Linked DNA regions of Homo sapiens: all the other regions are linked to region 3. The links come from fine-mapping of genetic effects on gene expression. A gene starts in region 3. Each other region holds a variant in brackets. All regions are shown on one strand. Distances are from middle to middle. Region 1 holds the start of GPR17 (G protein-coupled receptor 17). Region 2 overlaps MYO7B (myosin VIIB). Region 3 holds the start of LIMS2 (LIM zinc finger domain containing 2).

What was found.
Region 1: its variant is fine-mapped to the expression of LIMS2 in esophagus mucosa (GTEx, PIP 0.97).
Region 2: its variant is fine-mapped to the expression of LIMS2 in whole blood (TOPMed, PIP above 0.99).

The regions. Positions count from the first base shown.
Region 1 is chr2:127,643,762-127,649,882 of GRCh38, forward strand. All of the region lies in intron 4 of LIMS2 (LIM zinc finger domain containing 2), which reads right to left. It overlaps GPR17 (G protein-coupled receptor 17), which reads left to right and starts at 2,392. Exons shown (of 2, transcript NM_001161417.2): 1 at 2,392-2,483. RefSeq lists enhancers at 5,199-5,926, 5,953-6,121. The variant T/C (reference allele first, on the strand shown) is at 4,385.
Region 2 is chr2:127,631,010-127,641,506 of GRCh38, forward strand. It overlaps MYO7B (myosin VIIB), which reads left to right. Exons shown (of 48, transcript NM_001393586.1): 37 at 197-354; 38 at 591-744; 39 at 1,237-1,392; 40 at 2,249-2,354; 41 at 3,167-3,280; 42 at 3,587-3,674; 43 at 4,111-4,217; 44 at 4,713-4,898; 45 at 5,199-5,315; 46 at 5,536-5,619; 47 at 5,785-5,904; 48 at 6,307-6,717. The coding sequence ends at 6,408. LIMS2 (LIM zinc finger domain containing 2) reads right to left here. Exons shown (of 10, transcript NM_001161403.3): 7 at 9,887-9,979; 8 at 9,261-9,309; 9 at 9,061-9,136; 10 at 7,417-8,419. The coding sequence ends at 8,272. Among named protein-coding and RNA genes, the nearest start is that of MYO7B-AS1, 5.5 kb to the left of the region's middle. RefSeq lists silencers at 1,808-1,897, 1,998-2,047 and enhancers at 2,318-2,547, 4,844-5,790, 5,791-6,737, 6,738-7,684, 7,685-8,630. The variant C/G (reference allele first, on the strand shown) is at 6,785.
Region 3 is chr2:127,669,824-127,680,320 of GRCh38, forward strand. It overlaps LIMS2 (LIM zinc finger domain containing 2), which reads right to left and starts at 5,707. Exons shown (of 10, transcript NM_001161403.3): 1 at 5,191-5,707. The coding sequence starts at 5,201.

The DNA of each region.
Region 1 (6,121 bases), 28 kb before region 3:
GGCAAAGATACACAAAGGCCCCAATCCAACCTCCCTGGCCCCCGTCTCCACCTGCCACCCGAATCTCTCTCTGGTGCTCCTGCTGCATCCAGGCCTCCCTTCCCAGGCCCCCCAGCCCCAGGGGCCCTCTCCACTCCTCACGAGCCTCCACGGCTGCCCGACGCCCAGTGTTGGCCCCTCTGACAGGCTGGTCAGGGAGGATACGGAAGAGATCCAATCGCAGACCCAAGATCCCCACCCAGGTTATGGTGGGCAGACCCCAGATGCCAGGGCCACCCATTCAGCATCCCTCCCTGGACCCCAGGACCTGCTACTGCTGGGTGTCTGGACTCCATCCTGCACAGCACTGTGCTCCATCTGCCCTGGGGTGTCTCATCATCAGCTGTGTGCAGGGCAAGGGGCCCAAACAAAGGCCCAGCAGTCACTGGCTAAGCTGCCGACTGGCTCTCTGTGCCTCCCCAAGACCCTATGTGCCCAGCAGGGGGCAACAGCTCAGGGTCAGCTGACCGAATGCCTCGGTGAATGAATGACTCTACAAGAGAGGAAGGGAGCCTCGGTGGGCATCATCTCCCCTCGACTACTGGCCAGAGCCCTGGCTCTTACACCCCAGCGACGGGAAGCAGTTGTGGCCTGTGGCTTCAGTCTTCATCACCACAATCCCTGAAGCCCACCCTTGCCCAGACACCTGTGCCCCAGCCCCAACCCCAGGCCACCTCCTCAGCAGGTCTGGGGCTGAGCTGCCCCACCTGGCGCCTATGGCGGCCAGCCCATGCCCCCTGCGGTGCCTCTGTCCCAGACTCAGCATGTAGGCCCCATGACCCCACTCCACATTCTGGTGACTCCTCCTGAGCGTCAGGACAACACTCAACCCACGAGGAATTATTTCTGTCTCAAAGATGCAGGAATCAGCTCAACGCCTCAAAACTCCATCACCACGGTCAATGCCCTTGAAGCCATCGACAGTGATCACCCCAATAACAGAAGGTCTGTGAGCCCAGAAATGCCCTGCTCAGGGTGGTTAGCTTCAAGCCACCACCTTTCCAACCAGCCTGGGCCAGTTCTTCCAGACAGCCGCCTGCGGGCACAACAGGAAAGAGACCTGCGCCCCGGCTCAGACACCTCACACCCAGCTGGCTCTCAGGCCAGACAAACTGGGAAGCCCATCTCTCTTGAAGGAAGTCCAGATGGGAAACAGCTTCTCAACAGACCAGATCACAGCATCAGATCTAAAGGTGGCCTTCAGAATTCTTTTTCAGGTTGAATTAGGATCAAATCTAAGAATTCTAAATTCAAAATGCAGCAGAAAAACAAAACACACACACACACGGAGCCTAAGTTCTGGAGTGACATGTGCTTGGGTTCAAATCCTGGCTCTGTTGCTTCCTACTGTTTGTTGATGGGTGAGTTTCTTCATTTGCCTGAGCCTCAGTTTCCTTGTCTGTAAAATGGGGCAATAATCCCAGCTGCACAGGGTGATGTGAAGAGACAAATTTAAGACACTGCCCCTTAAATGCTAGCCACATACATACAGTTTTCAATGTTTAAACAACAAAATGTAAAGTCTTTTGAAACCAGGAAGGGTGATTTGGTTTCCCATGTTGCTGGATGTATCATTTTCAGAAAGACAGAGAGAAATGAACTTTGTTCACTCAGTCTCAGAGGCGGCCGCCGGCAGCATTCAAAGGCACCCCAGCCCGGAGCCACCCCAGGGAGGAGCCCCAGGCCAGCGGTCAGATTCATGGGCTTCCGTGCAGAAGGGGAGCTGCACCGGCGAGCACCCGGCCTCTGAGCTGAGCCGCATCCTCACGGACAGGACAGCGCCCCATTATGAGGCTCCTGCAGCTGTTCCTCGCTCCAGATAAAGGCCATGATTTATTCTGTGTGCCCAAATGGGGCCTCATTATACAGGGCAGGACACAAGGACCCTACAGCAAGTGTCCTCAAAGAGTCGCCTCTCACTCCGTGAGCAAGACTCCTCGGCCTCCCACCCTCCGTTCACAGGCCCCCTCCGCCGTCTGCGGGCGCAGGCCTGGGAGCGCCGCCTGTTGCCATGACAGCCGGCCCCTCCCTGCCCCCCATCAGTAGGAAATCATCCCCTTCTGAAACGTCCTGTTGTGTCCCTCAGCTCCAGCCCAAGCCCCCCACCCAGCCCCCGCCTGCTCTGAGTCTCTGAGACAGTCACACACTCAGACTATGTGGCCAAGCTGGGGGCGGGGGGCATGGGCTAGGGACACACTAGAATATTCACGCTCCGGTGGCAGCAGCAGCAGCAGCCAGAGGAGCAGCCCGACACAACAAGGGACCCCTCAGGAATGAAGCAGCCTTTCAGGGCCAGAGGGGCTGTGGTCTCCCTTCCTCTCCTTAAATAGCCAGCGTTCCACCCACAGCGGCAAGGAGCCCCCTGCCACCACCGACACCCACGGGCGGAGATCACCTGCTGCCCCGCAGACCCCTGTCCCTTCCTCCCGGACCAGCAGCTAGAGGTAAGGGGCAGGCTGGGTGGGGTGGACTGGGAGCCCAGGGCTAAGCAGAGGAAACACTCAGCGGGGAGCCCTGCCCAGGGAGACAGGCAGCAGCCTGTCTCGTCCCATCTCTTTGGTGATGGTCTGACCTGTGCATCGAAGGCTGACCACAGTCTGAATTCACAGCAGCCCACAAAGCGGTGTTTCGTCCCTCTGATGGGGGCTTGCAGAGGGGAAGTGGCTTGCCGGCAGTCCAGGCTGCAATGACAGCACCGCTGCCCCTAACCATTAGGCAGCCTTGACCCATAGAGGAGCCAGATGCCTGGGAGAGGGCTCGGGCCAGGGATGGAGTGGCGCTAATGCAAAGGAAACTGCCACCACCTGGCCATGGCGCTGCCACCACAGGCCCTCCCCGAGGCCACACATGCCCACCTGCCACCTCCACAGAGGCCTATGACCTGTCCTAGATGCTCGACTCACCCACAGCCACGGGACCCAACACTGCCCAGGCCCCGGCCCATGCCACGCCCTTTCCTCTTACGGACACCGGCTCGGTGGCCGTCTGACCAGTGAGTCGTGAGGAACCAGCGAGTCTAGACTGAAGTTTGTGTTTCTAAAGGGCAACAGAGAGTGAAGCGGGGCCCATCTCAGACCAAACTGCAACAATCAGTATCAGAACTCCTCAAACGGGGGACAGAAAGGGAGAAGAAACCTCAGCAAACCTGAAACCAACCAGAAAGCTGTTTAAAATGGAGTCTCAGTCCCAGAGAGAGCGAGGGGCACGCCCTTCGGCCCGGGCAGGAAGTGGAGGGCAGTGCCCAGGCTGAGGCCCCCGGGCTGGAGGCAGGAGGCACCACAGGCCCACCTGGTGCCATGAGATATGCCACCCCTGCCGTCACTCAGGGCCCTGAGCCCAGTAACACTCTGCCGTCACTGTCCTGAAACTCTTCCTTTTTGAGCAAGGGGCTGCACATTCTCATTTCATACATGGGCCCCTAAAATGAGGGAGTGGCCCCAGGGCCAGGAGGGGGTGCTGAGCCTGGGAGACAACTCCATGGCAAACTCTGAGACTGAGTCACACTCCCCACCCTGGCGGTCTTCCAGGGAGTGAGACCGTTTCCCCGGTCTCACTTCCAGCTCCAGGGCCAATGTCCCCTGGTCAAGTGACCTAAGACAAGTTAGCAGACACTCAGCCTTGACTCCCTAACCTGCAACATGGGGCTAAAACTGGTTTGAGCCAGCACAGGCAGGCCCCCACCATGCCAGGCAGAGTGGTCAGTCGTACCTATGAGCTGCTCTCTCGTGGGGCCAGGTGATGCCTGCACTGTGGGGCACAGCACAGGCCTGAGGGACAGCCTGGGGTGGAGGGCACCCACCTTGGCCCCTTCCCACCCCCAGGTTCTAACAAGGGCCCCTCACTCACTGGGCCCCCTCTCCTCTTCCAGTCTCCAGGGCCTCCCCGCACACACCTTCCTCCTCTCCTGCCAACCTGAAAACAGCACACCTGTGTGCCCCTCCCATCTACCATGGGCTGTCCTCTCTGCTTGCCCATGCGTCTGCCCTGGAGCCCTGTTCCTCCAGTCTCCGGGTCCTCACCCCCAGCACATGCAACACGACACCCTCAAAGTCATGGGCCCCCCTCCCCTGCCACCGTCCCACCGGTACCTGCTCCCTGTTCTCCCCTGCCTCACAGGCCCTGTCAAGGGCTGTGTTCCTCCCTCCTTTTACCTCTCCTCCACAGCCCCCTTCACAGCCCTCAGCCCTTCCCCAGGGCTTCAGCCAAGCCTGTCTCCCTCTCCCAAGCATCACTCACCCCGCCTTCTTCGGCCCTCAGCTCTCCGCCCTCACCGTGGTTTTAGCAGTCCTAGGGAAAGTGCCAGCCGAGACCAGCCAGACCAAGTCAGAGTACTGTGGAACCTGGA[T/C]TCCTGGGGAATGGGGTCCCCATGAGGAACTCCACATTGGACTAAGAACAGACCCTGTTCCTGGAAGCAGCAGGAAACCATCTCTGGTGTTAGAACTTCAGGCATCTTGAAACACTCTGAAGCCGGGGGCAATCTTTTCAGGTAGGGGAACCTGCCTAGAGAAATAGCTAAAAGGTAATATTATTAGGTAGTTGCCCTCCCCTTTGCTTGAGGACATTGATGGCCAGGTGCTCGGGCCAGCCCTCACCCTCCATGTGAGGGCCACAGCAGCTGGCCACTCGCTCTCCTGAAGGAAGGGTGCGGCCCACCCTTCCCTAGGGCTAGGGCCACCACCATGCCTGCTTCTCCTCCATATGAGGATGGCTCCAGCCTCCTCCTCGAGGGGCTGCTGTGTCCATGAACAGTCACCATGCCCTCTCTGCCCCGTGCCACCAGCATCCTGAGACAGCCCTGTGGAATCAGTAAGAGGAGAGGGGCTGGGCGCAGTGACTCATGCCTGTAATCCCAGCACTTTGGGAGGCCAAGGAGCACTTTGGGAGGCCAAGGAGAGAGGATCACTTGAGCCCAGGAGTTTGAGACCAGCCTGGGCAACATGGCAAAACCGTCTCTACCAAAAAATACAAAAATTAGCCGGGTGTGGTGGTGTGCGCCTGTAGTCCCAGCTATTCAGGAGGTTGAGGTGGGAGGATCACTTGAGCCCTGGAGGTTGAGGCTGCAGTGAGCTGATTGCACCACTGCACTCCAGCCTGGGTGACAGAGGGAGACCTTGAAAAAGAGAAAGAAAAAAAGAAAAAAGAGAGGGAGGGGAGGGGAGGGGAGGGGGGGAGGGGAGGGAGGGGAGGGGAGGGAGGGGAGGGGAGGAAGGGGAGGGAGGGAGGAAAGAAAGAAAAAGAAAGAAAGAGAAAAGAAGAAAGGAAGGAAGGAAGGAAAAAGAAAAGAAAAAAAGAAAAAAGAAAAGAAAAAAGGAAAATAAAGAAAAGCAAGCAAACAAGCAAAGCGAAGTGAGAGAGAGAGGAAGGTAGGAAGGAAGGAAGGAAGGAAGGAAGGAAGGAAGGAAGGAAGGAAGGGCAGGGAGAAATGTGCAGAGTGAATTTGCTGCAGGCAGGACCCCGGCTGTTCGGTGCAGAGCCAGGCTCGCCCAGGATGAGGACCCTGCCAGGGCTGTGGCCCGTGCCTCCTCCCCTCCTGCTGCCACAATGGGCACAGGCAGGATGCCAGCTTCTCTTATGCAAACCTCTCTCCAGCCTCTGCTTCAGCCTGGCTGTGCAGGGTGGGGATGGTGGATACTGGGAAGCCAGGTGCCCAGAGGAGCCCCAGAAGCTGTGCCATCATCAGCACCCACCTGGCCGAAGCCCGCTGGTGACCCCAATTCAAAGGCAGGCCAGGTGCGCTGTCCTGCCCTGGTTCCGGGCTGCGGGCTGCTCTGGCCCCACCGCCTGCCCACACTGCCACTCGCAGGCCTGGGTTGGGGAGGCAGAGTGTTTGGGACCCTCACTCTCCTTCTTCAATCTTCTGAGTTGACTAAAATCAAAACAAGAGTGGGTTTCTCTGCTGAGGGTGGGGAGCACCCTATCCAGACCCAGGGTTCACCAGACGGACATGACTTGTTACCCAGGACTGTCACAGGGCTCTGCACTTGGCCTTCAAACGTGGGCAAGCCACGAGGCCTCCAGGCCTCTCTGGGGCTGCAGATCCGTCCTCAACAGCGCTGGCCAGTGTCTCTGACGCTGGGTAAAA
Region 2 (10,497 bases), 39 kb before region 3:
CACTGAGAGCTGCAGAGAGGCCACGCCACCCATGTGGAGCCTGCCTGGCCTTCCCAGGCCAGGGGAGTCAGGAGGGGCTTGCGGCAGGGTGGGGTGCTCTGGCCCTCCCACAGCCACTCAGGGGTGTCAGAGGACAGAGAAGCGTGGGACAGAGAAGGCCACAGGGCAGGCCTCACACCAGCCTCTAACCTCACAGGGCTCCAGAGAAGGACATGGTGAGCATGGCCGTGCTGCCCCTGGCCCGTGCCCGTGGCCACCTGTGGGCCTATTCCTGCGAGCCGCTGCGACAGCCGCTGCTCAAGCGAGTCCACGCCAACGTCGACCTCTGGGACATCGCCTGCCAGATCTTTGTCGATATCCTTCCCCACCAGCCTGCCTGCACCTCGTCAATGCCAGGGCAGAGGCACCCAGCACATCCTGGCCCTACAGCTGTGCTCTAGGGCAGGAGAGCCCAGGAGATCTGAGAAACCTGGAGTGGCGGGACAGAGCCCACACATGGCTCACCGCAGGGCCGGGGTCGGGGTCAGCGTCTATCCCCAGTCTGTGTCAGCGTGGGGCTGCCCCAGCACTGTGCTCCTTGACAGCCACACCCATCCTCCGGTACATGGGCGACTACCCTTCTCGGCAGGCCTGGCCCACCCTGGAGCTCACCGACCAGATCTTCACACTGGCCCTGCAGCACCCGGCCCTCCAGGACGAGGTCTACTGCCAGATCCTGAAGCAGCTGACGCACAACTCCAACAGGTCTGCTGGGGCGGCGGCCAGCCCACGCGGGCACCCTCAGTCCTCATCCCGGCCCCTGAGGCCAGACCGAGGCTCAGAGAGGACACCGCAGCTGGTGGCGGCAGAACCCCTGCCTGGGCTCCTGCCTCAGCAGTGGGAAGGGTTGGGCCCTTGGTCTGCTCTGCTGATGTCCTAGGGGTGGTCAGAGCAGGAGAGGATGGCCCTGCCCACTCCCACCCTCTGTGTGTGACCTGGCAGGCCATGACCTCTCTGAGCTTCAGTGTCGTCTTCCACAAAATGGGTGCAATGCCCACCCGCCCCCATCTTGAGGGTGTGAAAGCCCGTGGCATCGGGCAGCCTGGCACAGCTGGCATGGTGCAGCCTGGCAGGTGCCCTCCCCCTCGGGCCCTCTAGACCCCAGGCAGCTCTCACATCCGTCCCTGCTCCCCAAGGTGCCTGCCTGGCCAGGGCCCCCTGAGGGGCCTTTCCCGGCTGACAAGTGCTACCCTTCAGGCACAGCGAAGAGCGGGGCTGGCAGCTGCTGTGGCTGTGCACGGGCCTCTTCCCGCCCAGCAAGGGGCTGCTGCCCCATGCCCAGAAGTTTATAGACACTCGGAGGGGGAAGCTGCTGGCCCCCGACTGCAGCCGCCGAATCCAGAAGGTCCTGAGGTGAGCCCAGTGCCTCCAGCCCCCAGCATTGGCCCTGGGCCCGCAGACCTGGGATGCTGTGGGGCCTGGCCAGCCTTCCAGGAGCTCATGGTCCTGGGAGGACTCTCCAGAAGCCAGTGTCAGCTTGGCAGGCAGGATTGGGCCCCGAGCTGCCAGAGAAGAGGGTGGAGGGTGAGGCCCAGGAGGGTCAAGAGAAGGCTCAGTCATAGCCACCAGCTCCCCTGCCCCACCACTGCCCAGCAGTGGCACAGAGGCACTGCCTGAGGGATAGAGAGAAACCTGGATGCCCCAGCCCAGGCCCTCAAGGCTGAGGTCAGAGGCCCATCCTTCCAAGTCCATGCGGCCTCCCTCATCCGCCCACAGCCGTGAAGCTCTTCCTTGGCCGTCTTTGCTCTCCCCCACCCCTCCTGCCTCCTCTGGCTTGGCCTCCTGTGGCCGTGAGGAGGGCAGGTTGACTGTAGGAGTGGCCATAATTTCAGTGGCAGCCGTGGTCACAGAGAGAGGTGGGCGCCCCATAGAGGCCCTGCCAGAGTCCCTGGCCCCTGCCCGATGCCCCTGTTGTGCGAGAATAAGAATACTGCCAGCCTTTCCTGCCGGCGCCTTCCCGGGAGCCCCTGGCCTGGCCCTTCCCCGTGTGTGCCCCAGGCTTTCAGGCACAGCTGCACCATCACTACCTCTGAGGCCGCGTGGAGCCAGGGGCAGCCCCCAGGACATGCGAGGGGCTGGAACCACCCCAGTGATGGTCACTGGGGTTTTCTTTTGTTTCTGGCACATGGTTTAGGGCCCACATCGGGGCTGGGGCATGGGTGAGGATGAGGGTGGGGGTGGCACCTGCAGCACACGCTGTCCCCCTCAGGACGGGGCCCCGGAAGCAGCCCCCGCACCAGGTGGAGGTGGAGGCCGCAGAGCAGAACGTCTCCCGCATCTGCCACAAGATCTACTTCCCCAATGACACCAGTGAGGTGAGGCCCTGCTCTGGTCTGCACGGCAAGTCTCAGGCCTCCAGAGGCCATGGGGCATCCTCCTTCCTGGCCCAGCCTGCTCCTTGGTAACCCCAGAGAGCCTTTTCTAGGGCTGTCCCATCCTAACCAGTCTCCCGCCCTCTCCCCATGGGATGCAGGCCCCACCTGCCCTTGGGTGCTTTGGAAGTCAGGCCAGTCCCAAGGTATGAGTTGGGGGATCCAGGCCCAGGACACAGGAGAGGACAGAGGGGTGGGCAGCAAGGGTGAGTCCCAGGACTTGGGGGCCCCTAGGGGCTTCTGACCATCTGGGGTGCAGGAGAGCAGGTATTCCCACTGTGTGTGCCTTGTGCACAGAGCCTGCCATGGCTGCTGGGGGAACAAAGGGGCCAGGGGGCAGGTAGGAGACCACCAGGACCCCACCGTGACACAGAGGCCTTGATCAGGGGCAGCAAAGACAAGCGGGCTGAGAGGCCAAAGTGGGCAGTGTCGCCTCGCGCCCTCTCCAACAGCACAATGGTCTTTTTGGCCTTGATATTCGGGTCCCGGTAACAGGAAGTTCCCACAGTCTGGCTGCTGGGCTCTCAAGGCGAGTCAAAAGGCCAGGCCTGCAGGGCCCCAGGACAGCGAATGCTGGGACTAAACAACATGAACCTCTGGCCAGGGTTCTGGAAGGGAGGCTTGCCCTGCTCAGGGCAGACCACATCCAACCCAAGTTTCATGAAGGAGCAAAAGTGCCAGGCTAGGAAGGCTCATCCTGGGCTGTACTGGCCCCTAGCCAGGCCCCGGGCCTCACCAGCTGCCTCTCTGTCCAGATGCTGGAGGTGGTTGCCAACACACGGGTGCGGGATGTGTGTGACAGCATTGCCACCAGGCTGCAGCTGGCCTCCTGGGAGGGCTGCAGCCTCTTCATCAAGATTTCAGACAAGGTGGGCCGGGCTGGGGCTGGGCAGACGGTGGGCGGACGGGCAGTGAGCGAGGCCCTAGGTGCTGCCTGTGGGGGCCTCAGCCTACCAGGGGCACCCATGCTGGACCAGGCTGCACGGCCAGGGCTGCTGGGACAGAGGTAGGTGGGGTCCTGGAGCAGAGCCAGCTCCACACGCCAATAGCCCACGCACAGCCGACTCCAGCGCAGCACCCAGGCCGTAGGCGGCCACTGGACCAGAACCCAGCAGGTTCTCAGGAGGACAGTCCCCGGAAGCCACCCAACTTCCCTGTACCTTCCCCTTCCCCAGGTCATCAGCCAGAAGGAGGGAGACTTCTTCTTTGATTCCTTGAGGGAGGTGTCTGACTGGGTGAAGAAGAACAAGCCCCAGAAAGAAGGTGAGGAGGCCTCTGTGGAGCTGGGGGAGGGCGTGGCTGGGTGGGTCGAGGGGGCACTGGCGGCCTCTGTGCGGCCCATGCCCATTCATCCATCCATTCGTTCCCGTGTGTCCCTGGGTTGTGGGAACAACCAGGCCCTGGGGCCCGGCGGTGAGGGCCAGCTCAGGCAGAAACAGGTGGCTGCACCTTGGAGTGATGAAGGATGCCCCAGGGCTGAGGGGCATGACCCTCATGGGCTGGGAGTGCGAGTCCAGGAATGTTCCTGGAGAAGGCAGCCTCTACACTAATATTGAAGGAAAATGTGGGGACTGGGGAGGAAGAAGCGTGGGGGCTTTCGAGGCAGGGAGGTGGCAGGCGCAGTGTGGGGGGTGGCAGGGGGTCAGGGCTGGTGTACCTGCTGGGACAGGCTTGGTGCCCACTGCTGGCCCTCGCCCAGGGGCCCCCGTGACGCTCCCCTACCAGGTGTACTTCATGCGGAAATTGTGGCTCAACATATCTCCAGGGAAGGATGTGAATGCAGACACCATACTCCATTACCACCAGGTACCGGGCAGGCTGCCCTGGTGGGCACTGGGGCCACCCCCATCTTCCCACACCTGTTCTGAGGCTGTAGAAGCCAGCAGGCCAGGGCAGGGCCAGCCTCAGCCCTGGGTACCAGCCCATGTGGTAGGCAGACCAAGCCCCTGAGGGCTCTGGAACCAGGAGCAGAGGGCAGCAATGTTTGGGGACAGTGACTGCACTGGCACCTGCAGCATGACTTGGAGAGGGTGGGACAGAGGGTCCTGTGACCCATGGAGCAGTGGCCGTGGCCTGCAGGGCCAACCACATGGGTGGAGCAGGCCATCACCTCCACGCAGATGTCAGGGGGCCCTGCCCTGACTCAGGGTCATTCCCCTGGCCTGAAACTCTCTACCCTGCTCAGTCCGTCCTGGATGGAGTGGGCTAAGCCCCAGTTCCCCACCATCTGAGCGGGAAAGAGGTTGGGGGCGGGTGGGCCGCAGCTGGAGACCCAGCATGCCCAGTGTGTCCATCACCCAGGAGCTGCCCAAGTACCTGCGCGGATTCCACAAGTGTTCGCGGGAGGATGCCATCCACCTGGCGGGCCTCATCTACAAGGCCCAGTTCAACAACGACCGGTCCCAGCTGGCTAGTGTCCCCAAGATCCTGAGGGAACTGGTGCCTGAGAACCTCACACGCCTGATGTCCTCGGAGGAGTGGAAAAAGGTCCCTGGTCGGGCTGGGGAAGGGTTCTTGTGCTGCTGCTCCTCCCTGGGCCCCTGCACCAGTGCCATGCCCTGCCTGGGCTCCAAGATCACATGGGTGCACATGGGTGGTGTGGAGGGTGGGCTGGCTCTGCACACACCACGCCTTCCTATGCCATCCACAGCACCGAGACTGTCCCATGCTGCATTCCTCCCCTCCCCTCCCCACCGTACTAGCCCTGGGGTAGGCAGGTGCTGCCCCCACCAGGGCTTTGGAGGGCCTCTGGGCACCCAAGTCCTTACTGGCCCTCCTGTCCCCCAGAGCATCCTTCTAGCCTATGACAAGCATAAGGACAAGACAGTGGAGGAGGCCAAGGTGGCCTTCCTGAAGTGGATCTGCCGGTGGCCCACCTTCGGATCCGCCTTCTTCGAGGTGAAGGTAAACCTTGCCCCACGCCAGGGCCTCCTACCCAAGCAGGCTCCGCTCAGCCCAGCCCCAGCAGGCCCAGCGTCAACCAGCACACATCTTGGGTGGGGCTGGCCGTGAGGCTGGAGGGCGTGGGTGTATGTGTGTATGTGCGTGTGGCCTAGATGAGCTCCTGGGAGGTGCAGCCTGGCCTCCCGGGCTGGACTATGACCGCCGTGTCCCTCCCTCCCAGCAAACCTCGGAGCCTTCCTACCCGGACGTCATCCTCATCGCCATCAACCGACATGGGGTTCTGCTCATCCACCCCAAGACCAAGGTAGCTGCTGGGCCTCCGGAGGGGCTGGGGGCCACCAGGTCCAGGGACCTGTGCAGGTGGGGCTGCAGTCATCTCTGCGGTGTGTCCTGCCTCTCTCCTGTCCCCTAACACACACAGAGCCCGTGCTCTGGAGGCGTCCGGCCCACCCACCCTCTCTGCCCCCAGGACCTGCTCACCACCTATCCCTTCACCAAGATCTCCAGCTGGAGCAGCGGCAGCACCTACTTCCACATGGCGCTGGGGAGCCTGGGCCGTGGCAGCCGCCTGCTGTGCGAGACCTCCCTGGTGAGCTCAGGTTCTTTCTCCCATCCAAGATGCATAGGACAGAGCTGCTGGAGACTGGGTTCCCCACCCTCACCCCTTTCAAGTGGCTCACTAAGAGGGCTCAGTCACAGGGCCCAGGCGGGGCCAGCAGATCTGGAGAGGGCCTGGGTGCATCCCCAGGACCAGCAGCCAAGGTGGCAAGGCCAGGCGGGACCCCCTGCGCCCTTGGCCCATTCCAAGGAGGGAGGGAGACCCAGCTCCAGCAGGGCAAGCAGAAATGACGGCCCCAATGGCAGGAGCCCGCCTTCCCTTTCTCCATGCCCTGCACTGCTGGTTGCTGAGGAAGAGAAGGTGGTCCCTGAGTCCAGGACCCCCACCTGCCCTCTGCACCCACAGCCTCTGACCCCCCCGTCCCCTGTCCAGGGCTATAAGATGGATGACCTGCTGACCTCATATGTGCAGCAGCTCCTGAGTGCCATGAACAAGCAGCGGGGCTCCAAGGCCCCAGCCCTGGCCAGCACCTAGCAGCGGATGCTGGCGTGTCTGCTCAGGCGCCCTTCCCGACCTCTAGCCTGGCGGCACCTTCCCAGGCCCTCTCAACCCAGGGCCTGTCCTTGGCGGGCAGCCTTCCATGCTGCCCCCCATACAAAGCCCACTCAGCCCCGCAGGCGGCCCCCTCTGTCCTGGGCGCTGCCCAGGGAGGCCAAAAGACGGGCCCAGAATGGGGTCGGGAGTCTCGGACCCCCAGGCTATTGGTGGATGACTGACTGACAGGACACCTCCCAACCCCACCCCACCCCACCAGAATGTTCAATAAAAACTCCTGGAGCAGGAGAAGTGTGTCTGTCTGAGGGAGCAGGGTGTGGCACAAGGTGGACAGGGGGCCTGGGAGGCTCTGGCC[C/G]GCAGAGAGCTGCAGAAAAACCAAAATGCCGTGTGACTGACTCCCCCAGGGAACCCGGAGGGCAGCTGCATTCTCCAGAAATGACTTCATCCCTCCCTTTCTGCTTCCTTCCTCCCCCTCCCTTCCTTCCTTCCTGTTTCTCAGACTGGGGAGGGGCACTCATGGGAGAGTTCTCCTCCCAGGCCCCTCCTCACACCTTCTGTCCTTCTCCCCACCCGGGGCATTGATACGCCTGCGCTACCCCCAGGAGGCCAGGGTGGAGGTGCGGCTCTCTGGCTGCTGGCTTCATGCTATGGCCAGCTTATGCCCAGACAGACAGTGGGCAGAGCTGGACATAGCACCTTGGAGGCCTGGATTCCCCCACCTCGCTGGCATGCCCTGTCCCTGCCCACCTCCTCCTCTGCCCACTGGGCCAGCTTATGTGGACCTGGCCACCCAGGCTTGTGAGGACCTGGCAGGGCTAGTCTTCAACTGCTTATGGCAGCCTGGCCTGGGATAGAGGCTAGGGCCCCCTGAACTCGTGCCTGTCTATGTCTGTCCCTCTGTTCAACTGCCCCAGCAGCAGCGTGTCCAGAGCTGCTGCCATCCCCTCCACCCCCGACCCCCGCCACAAACCACGCAGGCTGCTGTGGTTGTGTGAACAAGCCTTCATTGTGCAAGCGTGAGCCCAACAAACAAACACCAGGTCTGCGCTGGCCGAAGACGAAGCGTCCTCCCTGGAGGTGGGAACAAGTCACCTCTGACCACACCTCCTCTGACGCCATCACCTCCTCCTGGCCCCACCCAAGGGCTCGACACAAGCCCCAAGGTCGGGGGGAGAGGGGCGGGGCGGAACCGAGGGCGGAGGCCAAGGTGGGATTCCAGGAAGGCCTTCCGAAGGATGGAGGTGGGTCCTGTCCCTCCAGGTAGCTTGTGGGTGTGGACAGCAGGACTTGCTGGCTCAGTGTGGGCACAAGGACACTGTGCCACTGGTTGAGTGAGTGGTGAGGGATTGGAGGTGGCTCCCAGAGGCCTCCATCTGCATGGCCCTGGCCCTGTGGCTCCAGCAGGCTGCCCTGGCTGTGGGTAGCCCAGGAGCCACATGCGCTTAGTGGGGCCGCTCTGGGGCAGGGGCTCTCACAGGACAGCATGAGCCACTGAGCCGCCTGGGGAGGGCCAGGCCAGGCGGGGAGCTGTGGTGCAATTTGCTCCTGTCCCTGGAGGTCTGTGGGCGGAAGCTGTGGGCACAGGTGGACATGGCTGTCAGACGTGGGGTCATAGGCTCCCACTCCCCAGCTCCTGCCTCCTCACAGACAGAAGCCACGGCCAAGGAGAGGAGAGACATGGGGAAGGCAGAGATGAGGGAACAGGAAGGGAGAAGGCAATGAGGAAAGAGAAAGGGAGGGTAAGATGCGGAGGGCACAGGTGGATGGGGACGAGGGGGCCAAGCATGGACAGCAGGAGGGGAGAAGGCGGAGGGGCCGAGAGGCAGCTGCGCAAGAGGGCCTTCAGGCAGAGTTGAGGTCTGTGGCCTTGGGCTGGGCCTTGCGGGAGGTCAGCTCCGACAGCTTCTTCAGCCGCTTCTTCAGCTCCAGCGGGAACTTCTCGTAGCACCTCTTACACACGGGCTTCATGTCGAACTCCACAAACTTGTTCCTGAGGAGGAAGCTGAGCTGTCAGCAGAGCCCCACGCCCACCCCTTTAACCCCAGACAGGTGACTGTGGAGTGGGCTTCCCTCAGCCCCCAGCCTCCCCACACCAGCCTCTCCTAGCCAGCAGGCCAGGCCCTAGGGTGAGATGGCCAGAGAGCATAGGGATGAGAAGGGCCTTGAGGCTTCCCTTGCCTCCCAGAGGCTTCTCTCAGGTTCTGAAACCCCAGAACCCTCTATGCCTCCCCACAGCCCTTGGAAACCTGGACGCCATCTCTCCTCTCCCAGCTCCAGCCATCCCACACCCCTCGAGGCTTCCTGGATGAGCAGCTGACACTGCTGCTTTTGCATATGCTGTTCCCTGAGCTGGAATGCCCTTCCCTCCCCAGAGCCCAGGGTTCTGGCAGGTGTGTTGGAGGCATGAGTGTTCCTCCTCCTCTCACTGTGCCTGGGGTCCCTGGGGTCCCTGGATCCCCTAGACCCCCTGAACCTGCCCCCATCTCCCTGGGTGGTATAAGGCCGGGCTGCCCCTTGTCCCCACCATATCCCCAGGCCAGACTCAGCTGGTGTGCAGGAGGGCTGCTGAGAGGAAGGACCTGCAGGAGCCCCCTCCACCCTGAGCCCCATCCCACGATCACAGGGACTCACTTCAGGGTGAGCTTGCTGTTGCAGGTGGAGCAGGAGAAGCAGCTCACACACCAGGCCTTGTTGAGGGCCGACACCACTGTGAGGGAAGCGTGGGACTCAGCAGGCCTGGCTAGGCTGCCGCAGGCCCGGCTGGGCTCACAGCTGCAGCACCCAGGCCCCAGGAGAGCAGGTGGGGTGGGGGAGGGAACACAGGGCCTCACCATCGCCTTCAATCACATGGCTGCAGTTGTAGCAGACGTCCCCGAAGAGCTGTGGGCCGAGCAGGCTGTCAGAGTAGCTGCAGGCAGTCACACCCCAGCCCAGGGCCATCATGCAGCCAGCCTGGCCCTCCAACACGGCCCCTCTCAGGCATCTCCCAGGCCCTGCCTCCCAGGGCCCAGCTGCAAGGCTGGGTTGAGGGCACGGCAACCCATGAGAACCACCCTTCCGGGAAGGACAACAGGCTGGGGCGTTGCTCCCCAGAAGGCCCCTCTGCTCTGGCCACTGCTGTCCTGCAAGGAGGTGGGCCCAGGTGGTGACTGCATCCCACCAGCGCCCCCTGCCTTCTGTACCAGAGCAAGGGAGGGAGGGGGTTGCTGGCACTGTCAGCCCCATGTGCCCGGGACCTCACACCAGCCCCAGAACATTCTTCAAAGGAAGACACTGAGACTGAAGAGAGCTGCCCAGGTCTCGAGACCCCAGGCCAGGAGCCAGGGCTGAGGGTGCAGGCCTGGGCTCAGCACCTGGCAGAGCTCCTGAGGGGGTGCCCACAGCCTCCCTTGCTCACGGCAGCTCTCCTGGCCACCCCTCCAGACCCGCATCCCTGAAGGTTCTGCACCGGGCTCACCTGGTTGTAGTGAGTCTCGCAGTAGGCCAGGCCCTTCTTCTCATAGTGCCGGTGCCCCAGGAATGGCTTCTCACACTTGGCACAGACAAAGTGCTGCAAGGACAAAGGGCGGGCCGGGTGGCATCAGGGCTAGAGCGGTGACCCCGAGGGACAGTGGTGACCCGGGGACAACAGTGACCCCAGGAGCCAGTGACTCCAGGGGACCACAGTGGCCCCAGGAGGCAGCAGTGACAGAAGGGGACAGAAAGCAGAGTCTGGGCAGGTGCAGGCCTTTCAGGATTCACACTGGGCAGAGGGGACTGACACCTCTGTGAATGCCCTGGGGTCAGCAGACCCTACCCCTCCTCTAAGGCACTGATGGTAACCTTGTGAGTCACCATCCCCTCCCAGTCTGGCCTCCCCCTCGGCAGCCTCAGCCCCAGGAGTCAGGTGCCAGCCTGGTGCTGCGGCATGGTGGGCCCTCATAGGCAGAGGCGGCCCTGCCTGTCCACGTGGGGCCTCCTGCAGGCACCCCCTGCAAGCCTGGGATCACTGAGCAGCACCTTGCATTCCCCCAGGGATCTGCATGTGAGGATGAGGGCTGGGGGCTGGGGCCTGCATCAGGGCAGGAC
Region 3 (10,497 bases):
GGCAAAGAGTTTGAATGGACATTTTTCCAAAGAGGATTTACAAGTGGCCAACAGATACATGAAAAGATGCTCAACATTATCAGTCATTAGGGAAATGGAAATCAAAACCACAATATGACACCACTTCACACCTACTAAACCGGACAACAATAACAAGCATCAGCAAGGATGTCGGGAAATTGGAACCTTCATACATTCCTGGTGTAAAATTTAATAAATGTAAAATTGTTCAATTACTTGGAAAACAGCTTGATAATTCCTCAAAAAGTTTAACATAGAGTTACCATATGCCAGCAATTCCAGTCCTAGGTATATATTCAAGGAGAAAATGTATGTTCACACCAAAACTTGTATGGGAATGTTCATAGCAGTATTATTCACGGTAGCCAAAAAGTGGAAACAATGCAAATGTCTACCACGGATGAAGGAAGAAACAAACTATGGCACAATGGAATATTATTCACCCAGAAAAAGGAATGAAGTACTGATTCATGCTACAATATACGGATGAATCTTGGAAATATGTTGTTAATAAATGAAAGAAGCCAGGCACAAAAGGCTATATAATATATGGCTCCATTTATGTGAAATGTCCAGAACAGACAAATCTGTAGAGACAGAAGGCAGGTTACTGGTGGCCAGGGCTGGGAGGAGGGGGAAATGAGGACTGTCTGCAAATGAGTACAAGGTTTCTTTTAGGAATGATTAAAATGTTCTGGAATTAATGGTGATGGTTGCACAGCCTTGTGAATGCACGAAAAACCACTGAATTTTACAATCTAAAGTGGTGAATTTAATAATATGTGAACTATGTCTCAGATTTTAAAAAACACGTGAGTAATGAAGAATGCAACTACATGGCTTCTTAGAGGCTGGAACTGAGGCCCCAAGCTATGAGGCAGGGCTGCCTCCCCAAGGCCCTGGGGCACGTGCCCTCAGCCCAGTGGGCAGAGGCAGAGACGGACAGAGGCAGAGATGCCACAAACAGGCTGTCCTCCAGAGCCAGCTCCCCCACCAGACTCCTCGCTGGGAGGCTGAAGACAACTCCATGAGTTTCCCGTGTATTCCTCCAAGGACGTGGGTGAGGACACAGTAGGTTTTATGTTCATATGTGTATTCAGTCACCTCATCTCAGCAAGACATATGCATTCACTCATGGAGGTATCTCACTAGGGTGGTCATCCTGCTAAGTCATCTAAGTAAATATTCACCTTCAGAAATGTACACGCTACACCTCAACAGAACAAGCAAGACAGTGACAGTGCCTCCCTTGGCCCCTTTCCCACCTGGAAGTGAAGACCTAAGGGATGGTTAAGCCTGCATGCAGGCTGGGCACGGTTGTTCACGCCTGTAATCACAGCACTTTGGGAGGCCAAGGTGGGTGGATCAAGAGGTCAGAAGATCAAGACCACCATGGCCAACACGGTAAAACCCCATCTCCAATAAAAATACAAAAAAAATTAGCCGGTTGTGGTGGTATGCACCTGTAGTCCCAGCTACTTGGGAGGCTGAGGCAAGAGAATTGCTTGAACCTGGGAGGCAGAGGTTGCAGTGAGCTGAGATCACGCCACTGCACTCCAGCTTGGGTGACAGAGCGAGACTCCATCTCAAAAAAAAAAAAAAGAGCCTGCATGCGGCACAGCACAGATAGGGACAGACAGAAGAAGGATAACCCGCTGTGGATAGAAAGCCCGGGCTCCTCTCCCCAGTGGCTCCCTGGGCTGTCCCTTGCCAGTTCACAAGTGCTGACTGTTAACTATTCAGGAATTCCGTAAAGCGTTAATGCCATGTTGGTGGCTTGAAATGAGCCCAGGTGGGGGTATCACACCACGGGACTGGACACCCTGCAGATCAGTCCCTCCATCCCTATTATGCCACTGGCCGGCTAGAAGGGGCCAGTCAGCACCAGAAGTAGAAGAAAAAGGAAGGAGGTGAGGGGCCATGGCAGTGCCACCTGGCCCAGTCTGGGGCTCAGGGCTCAGTGGTGCCACATCACAAGCCACATCACTTGTTACCCACTTTACAGTTTGCTTAAGCCCCTGACGCCACTGCAGCCTCGTGTGCTGTGCTGAGGGCTCTAGCTGCAGTCAGCTGCCCCTTGGCCGACACCTTCTGCCTAGGGGACCACCGGGCACACTCCTCACCCGGAGGAGGGGCAAGATTGGTGGATATGAGGGCAGGGATCTAGCAGCCTGCTCTGCGCTGTACTAAGCATGGGCTCAGCACACAATCAGGCATACGACAGCCTCACATGTGACACACATGACGGTCACACCATGGGTGGGACTCCACTTTATGCAGCCAAGCCACTGAGCTCACGTGGCCGTGGGTGTCAACATCCCAGGCTCCATTTCCAGGAATGCCAGGGACAGCTGGGTCCCTAGGTAGGTGGCCTTAATATCCTCCCTGTAGAACAATGGTGATGCCAGAGGTCCCTTCAGCTGTGATAGTCAAAGATCTTGTGGTTGTAAGTTGCAAAGTCCCTGAGTTGCTGCTGAGGCCGAGCCCCCTCTCTTCCCACGGCGTGCCACCCCATGCTCTGGGCTGCCTTCACTCCCTGCCCAGCTGGCTACTCCTGGGCTTCAGCCCCTCCATGCCCAGGTGCCTCCCACGGCTCCCCCTCAGACTTGCCACAGCTCTTCAAGCACTCCACAACCACACCAAGCATGCCATCCACCCCCACCTGTCATCACAGGAGGGGCATCCTCCCGAGCCCCACCCTCTGTGGCCCACCTCACAGCCAGTCAGTTGGGTCCTGTCCACTCCACCTCCCAGAACCCTGAGTCAGCCTCCTCTCCTCCACCCGCTCAGCCACCCAGGAGAGGCCTCCCTAGTGGCTGCCTTCTGTCTCCTTCCCCATCTCCTTCCCAGCAGCCCTTTCTCCACACAGCACCCATGGGTTCATCTGCAGACAGCATGGCCACACATGCCACTCCAGGTCACTTTGGTGGCTCCCCACAGCCCTCCCTCTGCTCTTGCCTGGTGAGGTCCTAGGGAGAGCTGGCAGGGAGAAGCCCTGAAGGTATGCGAGCAGAGAGGGTGTTTCCCAAAAGCAGCCTGGCTCTGGGCAGCATGGGGGATCCCGAGAGAACCAGGATCCAGGCACGAGGAGCTGCCCGGGATCACATGGGAACAGTGGACGTGGGGAAGGGCACCCAGCATGAAACGGTGGAAATGAAACTCCACTGCTTCTGGGACAGGAAAACTCTCGCCCACTCCGAAGGCCGGGTTGGATGTCTGTTCCTCACAGACTGGCCCGGCCCAATCCCTGTGTATGGAAGGCAGGGAAGCCAGTGGGGCACCAGCACTGCGGGCAGCAGGGTCACCTTTGAAGGAGCGGGTGCATTACACTCAGATCGCTCACAGCTGCGTCAAACAAACTCCAGGAGAAAGGACTGCGGGGAGCCACCGAACTGCATAAAGGGAGGCTCTTGGGAGTGGAACTGTGGCAGTTTCCTTCTCTTTATGTTTCTGTTATCTTTTATGTTTCCAGGTTTCTCCTTATTCTCTAAGACGAGTAGTATTGCCTGGACGAGGAACGCCCTACACAGTGCCTGCCAAAGGCTGACTGTCATCCCTGTGTCATTTGAGGGTAAGAGTTTCTCAGGCCCTTGGAGCCCACAGCAGCAAGGGAAGGCTGACCCCTGCTCGCCACCACCTGCCTTCCCAGCGGTTCCGGCCGGGCTCACCTGACGGCCTCCGTCTCCAGGGAAAGGCCCAAGGGACTCAGGGGCAAGAGGACCCTTGCCAGGGAGCAGTGGCACCTCGGGGCCTCCCATTCCAGCCCCGCACCCTTCACGGCTCTGTTCTCCTCGACATCCCTCCTGTGCCTGAAGGAACCGCCTCTCACCCACCTCCACCTCAATGCTGCTGCTGGGGCTGCTCCGGACCCTGTTCCTGTCTCTCCCCACTTTCTTTTCCTAGAAAACAGGAGAGTGAGAACCAGCCAGCTGGCAGGGATGCTCTGAGGAAAATGGGAGGCAGCCCCGCTAGAACCCTAGGGGGTGACCACAGGCAGCCAGTGGGCCTGCAGATGCCACTCTCCGGGGGATGAGTCCCTCCATCTCACTGCAGAGGGGCCTGGGCCAAGGCTTAGAGGTGACTCCAAGTCAGGGGAGCTAACTGGGAAGAGAGGCTTGGGGAGAAGAAAGGGAAGTGTGTCTGGAGGGCAGGACTTACAAAGTGACAAGTTACAGGCTATTTTTGGTTCCTGGGCTGCCCTGAGACCCCAGGCCACAGCCTTAATGGCGATCACAGAGGCAGCTCCCCTGTGGGCCTCGGATTTGAGACTGCAATCCTGGACACTGCCCTGTACCCTCCAAGCCCCTTTCCCCAGCAAAGCCACAGGTCACTCTCCGGGCTGGGGCTCCCCAAGAGCCCCAGGTCATGGGATCCTGAAGAACAGCATCCCCCTGCCAGGACTTGGCTGGGGGAGACCAGGGCCTCAGGGACAGCCCCCTCCCACCCAGTCCTGAGTCATGCACTTGTACCCAGCTAGGTTCCAGAAAGGGCTGCAGGGACAAACACTGGCCGGACACTGGTGGACCTGTGACTGGCCTCCTGAGTGGCTCAGCCTCTGTGGCCTCTGGTGACCTCATCTGTGAAATGGCAACGAGGGGCCTGAGAGCAGAGGGTGGGCCAGGCCCAGGGGAGCGCCCTGTCCCCAACCAACCCCTGCACAGCTGGTGCTTGGGCGCAGCTCTGGCCAAGTTCCAACATACCCTTCAACATTTTTAACATTTTTACCACCCCAGGTTTACAGAGGAGGAAACGGAAGGCTCCAGAGATGACACTCACCGGGATCGGGGATCGCACAGCGCGGGCTCGGGGAAGTTGGGGGAGGCACGCAACCTTTGAACCTTTTGCCCGTGGTTGGTGTCTGACCTTGGACAAGACCCCCTCCCGCAGCCCTGGGCGTCGGTTGTGAGCAGACGGCTGTCCCATCTTGCAGCGGGCGGGTGGGCAGGAGCTCCACCTTCCGCTGCAGGCGCTCGCCCAGAGGAAGAGGCGCGGGGGCTGGGGGACCCCTGCCCCGACGGGCGCTGCCGCCCCGGCAGCTGCGAGAATCCGACGCGCCAGGGCGGAGCGGGGATCGTGGCGCCGCGGGGCTGTACGAGGGCGAGCTGCGCCTCGGCCAGGGGTCCCGCAGTCCCGCCTCCCCGGCCCGGGGGCGTGGGTGGGGGCCGTTACCTTCCCGTCATGGTGGCAGCGACGCCGAGCCCTGGGTTGCCGGGGTTGCCGCGGGTCTCCCTCTGCTGCTGCAGCCGCCAGCCGAGCGCCCGCCCGCCAGCCCGGGCCGCGGAGCAGGGAGACGCCCAAAAAAGGCCAAGAGCCGCTCCGCCCGCGAGAGGGGTGGGCGGGGGTGGCAGGGTGGGGCCCGCGGGGCGGGGTGGGATGGGGAGGTCAAGGCTGAGGGTGGTGGGGGTGTTGGGGAGGTGACGGTGGGAGGTTGCGGGAGTATAGGTGGGGGTGGGGGTGGCAGGTGGGGGTGGCGGCGGGTAGGGTTGGAGGGGTGGGGGTTAAAGGTGGGGCTGACGGTGGGGTTGGAGGGGTGAGAGTGAGGCGGGGGTGGGAGTGGGGGTAAAAGTAGGGGTAAAGGTAGAGGGTGGGCCCCGCTCCCGCACAGCCCCAGCTCCAGGGACACGGAGCGCGGCCAGCGGCGGGCGCGGGTCAAGTCCTTCCCAACCCGGGCTCTGCTCGCCACCTCCTGGATTCCGGGCATAGCTTTCCTTTTAAAGGGAGTAAAGTTATAATAAACGCGAACAAGCACCCCCACCCCCACAGCCCCGCCGGGACGCCCCGCCCGGCGCCCCCTCTGCAGTCCCTGGGCCGCCCCAACCGCAAACGCGTGCAGGAGATGGTAGGCGTGGGGGCGATGCTGAGACCACCTCCCTCCCGGGCTTTCCTAGCCCGGAGTTCCCACCGCGGATCTGGGCACTGACTCCCTCCCGAGGCACCCGGGACCGCCGAGTCCACGCAGTCCCGCCCCCAGGGAGGCTAAAGCCGAGAGGCGTCCCTCTTCAGTCGCAAAGCTGCTTTCCCCGGGAAATTCCGATTTCATCCCCCGTTGCGGGCCATCGCCCTAACTTGGCGAAAGATATTTCTTAAACGACAAAACCAAATGCCCAGCTCCCAGGTTTCCAGGGGAACCAGGCACGCCTCTGTATAATGAAGCGCTGAGAAGCTACCATTAGAGGCGTTAAGATGGAGGGGTAATATAAACTATTTAGGGAATCTCTTCGGAGGAAATTTTCAAACAAACAAAACAAAAAACCCCCGCCCTGCCTAAAGGCAGATATTTCCAGCTGGACAGTGGCGTGCAGCTCATCTTTGGAAGCAGCCCAGATGTCACACTGAGGTTTGGGAGCTGGGCGGCCTGATGTGTAAATGTGGTGCTACTCCGGTCTTGGCAGCAGAGAAAGATGATCTAGAAATGACGGTGTGAATTAGCAACCCACAAATAAACTGGTGCCGTTCAGAAAGATGAGTTGATAGTATCCTGCAGTTCCACCTGCAGAAATAAGCTGGGAAAAGACACCTGTTCCTAAGTGGCTGGTATTGTGGAGTGCCTTTGCAGTTGTTACTTTTTTTTTTTTTTTTTTTTTGAGACGGAGTTTCGCTCTTATTGCCCAGGCTGGAGTGCAATGGTGCAATCTCCGCTCACTGCAACCTCCGCCTCCCAGGTTCAAGCGATTCTCCTGCCTCAGCCTCCCAAGTAGCTGGGATTACAAGCATATGCCACCACACCCAGCTAATTTTGTATTTTTGATAGAGATGGGTTTCACCATGTTGGTCAGGCTGGTTGCAAACTCCTGGCCTCAGGTGATCCGACTGTCTCGAGTTATTACTTCTTGTTGCGAGCGTGTCTCAGCTGATTCGGCTTAACTGTAATTTGATGGTTGATTAAGCTTAAGTATGGATAATTTCTTGGCTCACCTGCTCATACAGGGAGAAAGGCTTTCCACCATTACTGACACAGAGGTGTAGGCATGCTGGGGCCGTGCACCAGAAATCCACTGCTGGACGGTTAATTGAATATCAGGGTCTTGTGGGAACCAAAGAGGATGAAAAGTTGAAAGCATTACACCAGAGGCCCATGCTCTCCACAGAGGAGACCACATTCCTGCCTTTTAGCCCAAAAGCCTCCCTGCATATGATAGCTGAGCACACACGGATCTGTATGTGGCCAAACCAGGACCCTATGCAGCTCCCAGTGTGCCTCATCCCTGGGCCAGGGCAAGCTCAGTAACAGCTGGTAGGGGTTGTGGGCATGGCTTAGCCCTGCTGGAGATGCAGAGGCTTCAAGGAGCCAGGGCCAGCCTCCCACAGTTCAGCCAAGAGGGCAGAGTTGCAGGAAAGAGCTGGCAATCACACATTCACACACTTATCCACTTGTTCCTTCAAGAGTATTTATACCGCATGGGCACTGGAAGTACTAGGGGGAGAAAGAAGCCATGGACCAGGCTCTCATGGAGTTTAGCAGGAGGTGGAGGATGGGCAATAAACAAATAAATAAATACGCAAACTAGATTTTAGACAAGGGTAAGTGCTGCAAAGAAAAGGACAATGGTGGTGGCTGCTTTAGAGTGAAGGGTGAGGGAAAGTTTCTGAGCAGGTGACATTCAAGCTAAACCAGAATAAGGGAAAGAGCCAGCCCTCAGCCATCTGCAGGAAAAGCATTCCGGCAGAACAGCAAGTGCAACAGCCCTGAGGTGACATGAGCTTGGGGTACGCAAGGTCAGAAAGAAGACCAGTGGGTCTGGAAAAAGGGGAGGTGGCAGGTGGAGGGGCACGGGAAATAAAGGAGAGGGCCCAGGGCAGAGCAGCAGGGCCACAGCAGAAGTAGGATTCCACCCTTAGATGGAGAGTTCTAAGCAAAGACAGACACAACACTCTAGCATCAGCAGGGGTGAATCTCAGAAATACTGACTGAATGAAAAAAGAGCACCTTTTCCATCTATATCAAGTTCTAGAATAGGCAACATTTGTCTGTGGTAGAAAAAATCAGAACGGTGGCTGCCTCAGGCTGGTCTATTACACCCCGGACTGCCCTGAGGTGGCAGGACAGGGGTTGACTAGGAAGGAATGTGAGGGAGTTTCTGGGGTAACAGGCAATGTTTTAGTAGGAGTTTGGGTCACACAAGTGTATATGCCTTTGTTAAAACTCATGGAATATATGGCCAGGATTTGCACATTTCATTATATGTACATTTTACCTCAAAAGAAAAATACCGTAAACGATACTGAACTCCAGTTAATGACATACAATGCTGAAGTGTTTAGGTAGAAAGGTACTGATGTCTGCAACTTACTTTGAAATACATTGTTTAAATCAAGATGAGCCGATGTGGTGGATCCCCGTAGTCCCAGCTAGTCCTTAGCTACGGGGAGGCTGAGGAGGGAGGATCACTTGAGGCCAGGAATTCAAGACCAGCTTGGGCAACATAGCATGACTCTGCCTCTAAAAAATGAACTCAAGATGGGGAGATGGGTAAAGGGAAGGACAGAGAGGTGGTAACGTGAGTCTACGACGATATTAATGGGAGAATCTAGGTGGTGGGTATCTGGGTTTTCAACTTTGATGAGTGCTTGAACTTTTTCATAGCAAAAGGGGGAAGTGTCCCTAGCTGCTGTGTGGCCACTGTGTGAGGGACAGAGTGGTCTCAGGGACAGTCTGATTAGAGGCTATGGTGAGCGTCCAGGAGGGACTGGTGCCTTGGGCCGTGCGACAGTAGGGACATTGAGAAGGCATCAAACACAGGATCTATTTTGCAACCAACAGGATTTGCTGGGAATCTGGATGTGTGTGTGTGGCCGGCGTGGGCGTGGTCAGCACAGGTGTGGTGGTTGTGGGGCAGGTGTGTGTGTGGCAGGTGTGAATGTACAGCCGTGGGAGTCAAGAGGACTTGCAGGTGGCCTTGCTTTCCTAGATATTGGTGGCAGTGGGACAGTCTGGGCAGGTTAGCGAGGGGTGACGTTGCATTGGGCCCTCCCCAGGCATCCCAGGGGAGATGGTGGGCGGGGCACTGTGAACCTGGAGCAGGGAAGAGAGGTCCATTCTCCAGCGTAGATGCAGAAGGCTTGGTACAAATGGAATTTCAACTCTAGGGCTCCATGGAGACCCTGGGGTGTCTGTACCAGTCAGGAGCCCTCCAAGGGTAAGAGGTGGGACTGGCAGAAAGTGAGGGGGAGAGCAGGAGAGTGTGAGGTGCCACAGAAGCCCGGAGGGAAAGAGCTCCAGGGAGGAGGTGCGCCACTGCCCCGTGTGCACACTGCTGCGTGCAGAGGCCAGGGAAGCATCTGGGTTTGGGTCAAGAGCCGGTCCCTTGGAGTGAGGGGCCTGAGTCCAGCTGCAGAGGGGCAGGCAGGGCCCCTGCAATGCCTCCCCCAGGAGCACCCCTCCCTGGGGTCTGTGTAGATGGTGCTCCCCAGAGTGCTGCACACAGTGCCCCTGGGGGGAGAATGCTCTGAAAGGGGGGGCAGAGAAGAGACGGCAGTTGGAAGTGGGGAGGGGAAGGGGAGGGAAGGTGAGAATGCAGTGTCCATTCCCAGGTCTTATGGGATGGCATCACTGAGGGACATTCAGAGAGTGGCTTGAATCACACACTTAGTCTTCGCTGGGGGACAGTGGGGCTCTGAGGCTGAGGCTGGGCCACAGAGTGACATGACAGCTGTCCTAGAAGGTGAAGGAGGTGCAGCATCTCCCTGGGCACGAGCCTTCTGCCCTCTGGGGTTCAGGGCAGGTGGGCACCCCCTTTGCTGGGCAGGTACCCGAGTTTCTCCACCCCCCACCTTCTCCCTTCCCTACTCCAGGGGACAGCTACCTGAGACAGCCCAGGGCCCAACGCTCGTGGGAGCTGGGACCCAGGGCCAAGAGAGGGGCTGGGCTTGGTCAGCGTGGCTAATCAGCAGTAGGAGGCTGAGGAGAACCCGGGGTCTCAAAGTGCCTCAATGAGCCTCCGCCAATATCCAGAGCCACAGCCCTGTCCCCATGTGACCACAGGGAATGGAGAAGGCCTTGCAGCTCTCAGGAGGCCTCAGGGTCTCCTGCCACAGCCCAGGTCCTGGGGCAGGAGCTAGCATGCCTTCCCAACAGGTAGGCTGTTCATCCTGCCTGTTCCAAGAATGGCCCCGTGTGATGTGAGGCCACCCAGACGGCCACTCTACAAGGCCTGTGCCCCAAATCTGGTTAAGGCCTGTCCCTTTCAGGGCACTGGGAACTGGCAAAACACAGAGACCTGCCGAATATCAACACAAAGTTCAAAGCCTTCAGCCGCCTCCTGCGAGACCAAAGTTAACTTGGGAAGTGGCTGTGAGAACCCCCCGGGGGGGAGCGGGGAAGCACCTGCACAGCCGGAGCCCTCCCGGGCGGCTCCCTGGGCCAAAGGAAGAATAGTGAGCAGGACACCGCCCCTGGCACCCACAGGTTTCACAACACATTGAAAAGTAAATGTCTCTTTTTAAAACTAGGAGCATAAAACCAGCTGGGCACGATGG